Linked DNA regions of Homo sapiens: region 2 is linked to region 1. The links come from fine-mapping of genetic effects on gene expression. Tissue or cell type: whole blood. Region 1 holds a variant in brackets; the other region holds the start of a gene. All regions are shown on one strand. Distances are from middle to middle.

Region 1 (2,752 bases):
GCTGGGGGCGTGAAGCAGGGGCCAGAAGCCAGCTGGGCAGCTGGGTACCGAGTTTGGGCTGGGGCAGGGAGCGGGAGCGCTGGGCCCGGGAAGGGGGTGATACTGGTTCGTCCAGGGGGCTGCAGAGGCTCCCTGCCCGCCTCAGGGGCAGGGCCGTGTCCGAGCTGCCCTCCAGGCTCCGAGAGTCCCTCCGCAGTACCAGCTGGCTGGTGCTCTTGAAGAGTTTATAGATCCTGATGAACTTCTGCCCAGGCCTGCGGTGGCCTCGGCGTTCCTGGCTGCCACGCCTCCAAGGCCACTCGGAGGAGCTCTCCTCGCTGTCCTCCACGTAGCCGCTGTCCATGCCATCAGAGAGGCCTGAGACAAAGGAAGTCAGCAGATGGCGCGAGAGGGCCGGCCCCGAGGCCTGGGAGGATGCAAGGGACAAGGTGGAGTCATGGGACGCCAAAGAGCTGGTGGAGAGCAGGGAATCTCTCTCGGCACAGTGCCCGTCAGTTTCCAAGTCCTCCTCCACCTCCTCCTCCTCCTCTTCCTCCTCTTCATCATCTCCCAGGATCCCTGGCTGGAGTAGCTCCTGTTCCTTGAGCAGGATTTCCTGCAGGATGTCTGCAGGGAAGCAAGGCCAGCACTGTCTGGGCGTCTGGGCCCCGGATCCCCTTCTATATTCCCTTTGGAGGGGAGACAGCAGGACTCAGGGCCAGCCCAGGACTCCTAGCACTGCCCCCTTGCTCTGCTTAGAGCCTGCTCATGTGGGAGAGCTTTGGGGACGGGGTGGGAGCTGCATGGACCCAGGACCAGAAACACAGCTCAGGCAGTGTGGGGCATGGGTGTCACCAGGGCCCCGGCTCCTTACCAAAGCTGTCCTGGCTCCAGCTGTAGGTGTAGCACCTGGCGACAGGGATGGGGATGGTGTGGAGCTTCCCTGGTTTTGCAGTGTCTGTAAGAACAGGGAGGATAGGAGAAGAGGGCTGGGAAGAGGCCTTGGAGATTGGCCAGTCCAGTCCCCTTGCCTTGGAGAAGAGACCAGAGATGGGACAGGATCGGCACAAGGATATGTAGCTGGATAGGCTGAGGCTGAGTTACAGCCAGGGTGCCAGGCTCCAAGCCAGAGGCCCTTCTTTCAAGCACACCATGTAGATGGCATGCCCTTTATGAGCTGTGCGAATGTGGCCAAACCACAACCTCTGAGCCTCATTTTACAATGTGCCCATGGGAGAATAATAGTACTAGCCCAGAAGGTTTTTATGAGGAATATTGTAACAGGGAATGCTAATGGTTCCTCAAAGTCTGTGCTCCCTTCTATGGTACTGGAGTCATAGAGACGATGTTTCCCAGGCTCCTTTGGGGCAAGATGTGGCCACGTGACCAAGGCGGGCTCAAAGGAACATGAGCGGAAGTGATGTGCCCAGCTTCTGCATCACCTTCAACAGAAAAGCCCAGCCTTTGCCCTCGTAAGCACTCTCTTTTCCTCTTCCCACAAGCTGCCATCATGATAGCACCCCCACCCTGCCCCTATAGACAGGAATGAGACACCCTAGGGGATGGCAGAGCAGTGAGATGCTGAAGAAGCTGAGTCCCTGAGTG[A/C]CTGTGTGGAGCAGAGCCACCAGGCCCGCCTGGACCGTGCACCTTGGGACCTAGAATAGGCCATGGGGAATGTGGGAGAACCCCATTCTCCCAAGAGCCTCACCTAACACCCCAGGGAAGCCAGCTTTTTCTCCCACCGCCTGCAGCTTGGTCCTGAGCCACCGCCGGGCCTCTGCAGCATCCCCGATGCCAGATGCCAGCTCCTGTGCCTCTGCGGTCTCCGTGAAGATGTCCTCAAGCTCTGCCAGGGTCTTGGCCTGAAACCCCAGGAGGAGATGGGCTTTGCTCCTGGACCGTGAGCTAGCTGTCCACCTGTTCCAGTTGCTAGCTTCTTACTGAGGGAGGCAGTGATCTGTCCCCTCCCAGCCTCATCACCCATCTCCTACCCACAGCTGGCCAGGCAGCCAGGCCTCTCCCTGCCCTTCCATTCTCAGGAAATGGTCAGGAGAGAAAGATCCAGAGCCACGGCACTGCAGTTAGGAGGGACTTCAGCGCTCCTCACTGTACCCCATAGAGGGGAAGGAGCTGTGTGGGGTGACACAGCCGACCTGTGACACCTGTGACAGAGCCAGGCCTAGATGCCAGGTCTTCAGCCCAAAGCTCATTCTCGTTCTTATGGCATATGCCATCTTCTGAGGCACCAGTTATCAGCACCCAGTCCTACTGCCCAGGCTGCCACCCAGCTGGTTAGGATCCAGCACACCAGAAACACCCTCTATGAGGTCAGCCCTCCAGCCACCACCCTGCCATGTCACCTGGGTGCAGGAGACTAAGTGTACCCTGGAGACCGTGGCTGAGATGAAGCAGGGAGAGGGTGCTACCTCCTCAGAGAGGTGCTCCACCAGAGCCCCAGGCCCCAGGTACATACCTGTAGCCTGCAGTGCAGGCCCGGGACGTCACAGTGGGCCCCAAAGGTGGCCTGGAAGGCGTGCAGGAGCAGGGTGGTGTAGGCACTGTGAGGCGAGTGTCCGGGCGTACTCAGCTTATTGGCTACAGCAAGGAACTCGGCCTGCACTTCCACTGGGTTCAGCAGCAGCACGGTGCTGGGGACACAGGGGACCGGCTATGGCACCCAGGGGTGCGCAGCATGCCACAGTGCAGCCACCCCCCTCGTGCCTGCTGGTGCTCAGCTCCACTGAGACCAGGGCCTCCTCAAGCCCAGGCAGAG
Region 2 (2,614 bases), 76 kb after region 1:
AGCTCTATGGGTCAGTATGACAGCCCATTTTATGAATCAGGAGACTGAGGCTGGGTTGGGGGACAGTGTGATGCTGCAGGTCACACAGCTGGATCCGGTTGGAACTTGGGTCTCTTTTCCACATCATGCATGGTTCCCAAGCAACGGCTTCAGCATCATCACTTAAGGAGCTCATTCAAAGTTTTGAAAACTACAGATTCCAGATCCCATCCCTGGAAAGCCACGTTGTAGGGTTGGCTCCAAGAGAGCCCTACCTGCAGTCAGCTCTGGGAGCCAGTGCCTTACAGGTGGTCCTGAGGGCAGGAAGGAAAGTGTGGGGTGGATGAGAAGACACAGAAGGAAAACGAGGGTGTCAGTCCAGAGAGGACCTTGGAGGCAGGCTTGGCCTACTTTTAGCCCTTATTCTGCCTAAACCCACCCCTCCTCTCTACTCCGAGTCTTGTTAACTCGCTTTATACCACATCCTGCTGCTTTAACCTCGCCTTCCTTTTCCTTCTGAACAATCTCCTTCCTCCTACTGACCTGAACTTTTTGTGTATTTACCCCAGGCCGGGATGGGCCAGCACGCGCACATGCGCATGCCCACACACACACACACACACACACACACACGAGTCACGCGGGGATGTCCAGTGTGTAAACACAGATCCTCTGAGAGCAGAAAGCGTGCAGTTCTCTAGGACAGCAGCCGCGTCTGGGCCCAAGGCTGGCTAACTAGCAGGCTGAGTGAGGCTCGACGGAGGGCGCCTTACGCGGGCACTTCCATGACTCCCAGGTTCTGACGGCACAAGAGCCCTGATGCCCACGCTCACGGACAGTTCCCCGCTGGAGCGGGCAGGGGACCTGACCCTACGACACAGGGCGTCCTGTGTCAGAGGCAGGAGGCTGAGGACACAGCTGCGCAGAGCCGCCCAGCAGAGGTTACCCGGATAACGATAAGTGGTCCCCGCGACGCCCCTTAAGTCTCTGGGGTTATCTGGAGCGCAGGTTTGCAGACCCGCTGCCCCCGCGGTGGGCCAGGTCCACGGGGCCGGAAGATAGCAGGATCTGTCCAGCCCTCGGGCTGCGGCGGCTGCTCGCGGAGCCCACTCTCCCCGACGGTCCCCAGCTTGCTCCAGCTCTGCCTGGAGCTCCCATGCGTGCCCTCCGCATCCGCCCTGGCCGCCCAGTCACACACCTGCAGTCCCCGCCGGGCGCCGAGCCCCTCTCCAGCGGCGACTCCCTGCGATTCGGGTGACCGTCGGGACCACCGCGCCCCAGCTGGAGCCGCGCGGCGAGCCGCAGCATCTGCCCAGCCTGGGCTCCTCCGGCGGGCGGGGCGGAGCCTGTCAGGGGGCGGGGCCTAATGGGGCGGGGCTGACCGCGGAGCCGGCCTCTCCAGCCACCTGGCGGCCCGGCAGCGTCAGCCAGGTGCGCGCCCGGCCCCACATCCTCTGGGTCACGCCCCCGAGGCCGCAAGGCGTCTGAGAAGCAGCCCCGGCTCTGACCCGCCAGCCCTCGGAAGAAGCAGACCCTGGCCGGTCCATGGCAGTGGCCCGAGGGGCACCAGCGCGGAGCACCAGCGACCCCCAAGGAGTAAGGGGAGGTTAGGCCCCCGCGTCGGAAGCGCGGCTTTGGCCCCGCAGGAGGGCTGGGCGGAGCAGGGGGGCAGGTCTGGGGTAGGGGCTTAGGGGAAAGACGAGAAAGAGGAAGCTCCGACGAGCTGCTTCCTTCTCTCACTGCGACCCACTTCCTCTTCCTACTTCTATTTTCTTTCTTTTTTTTTTTTTTTTTTTTGAGATGGAGTCTCGCTCTGTCGCCAGGCTGGAGTGCAGTGGCACGATCTTGACTCCCCACAACCTCCGCCTCCCGGGTTCAAGCGATTCTCCTGCCTCAGCCTCCCGGGTAGCTGGGACTACAGGCGCGCGCCACCACGCCCAATTTTTTGTATTTTTACTAGAGACGGGGTTTCACCATGTTGGCCAGGATGGTCTCGATCTCTTGACCTCGTGATCCGCCCGCCTCGGCTTCCCAAAGTGCTGGGATTACAGGCGTGAGCCACTGCGCCCGGCCCCTACTTCTATTTTCTTTGGGTGCCCTTAACCCTTAAAATGCCTGCACTACTGCTGTGCAGACGGGCACCTTGACCCGCATCCTTCTGCAGGAACCTTCATAGAAATACCAGCCAGTCCCGGCGTTCAGCACTGCTGTTCCAGCCTCTGGCTGGACTTCCCGCCCTCCCTGGCCGGCACCAAGGCTACTGTCACCTGAGTGGTTTCCCCAGCCCCTGGGGAAGGGAGTGAGGGTGTGCGGGAGTTCCTGCCTCCAGGGTCAAGGCCCTCTTCTTGCCTCCCCCTTTTCTCCCCCAGACGACGTTGCAGATGATGCTCTACCAAGAGTTGGAAGGACTCCCCAGGGAATCCCACAAGACACTGCGCTTCCTATGCCTCCTTTCCCTCGTTTAAAAAATGGGGATAAGAAGGTTGGCTACTGCTCCGACAGCCCTCACAATGGAAGAGTAGCACTTCATTTGTGGGTTAACAAAGGGCAACGCTGAAATCTCCACTTCCACTATTGAATGGAACTGTGTCATAATATCTGTTAGAGGCGTGCAAACTCGGCCACAAGGTCATGG

The links. PIP is the estimated chance that this variant, and not a neighbour inherited with it, causes the effect.
Region 2: it holds the start of PIK3R5, and the variant in region 1 is fine-mapped to the expression of PIK3R5 in whole blood (TOPMed, PIP above 0.99).

Annotation. Positions count from the first base shown.
Region 1 is chr17:8,888,286-8,891,037 of GRCh38, forward strand. PIK3R5 (phosphoinositide-3-kinase regulatory subunit 5) reads right to left here. Exons shown (of 19, transcript NM_001142633.3): 7 at 2,453-2,627; 8 at 1,688-1,841; 9 at 854-937; 10 at 1-606. All of the region lies in intron 1 of LOC124903922 (a long non-coding RNA gene), which reads left to right. Among named protein-coding and RNA genes, the nearest start is that of PIK3R6, 22 kb to the left of the region's middle. RefSeq lists enhancers at 1-454, 455-1,263. The variant A/C (reference allele first, on the strand shown) is at 1,585.
Region 2 is chr17:8,964,419-8,967,032 of GRCh38, forward strand. PIK3R5 (phosphoinositide-3-kinase regulatory subunit 5) reads right to left here and starts at 1,289. Exons shown (of 19, transcript NM_001142633.3): 1 at 1,178-1,289. PIK3R5-DT (PIK3R5 divergent transcript) reads left to right here and starts at 1,429. Exons shown (of 3, transcript NR_184080.1): 1 at 1,429-1,585; 2 at 2,349-2,614. RefSeq lists silencers at 1,213-1,532, 1,603-1,702.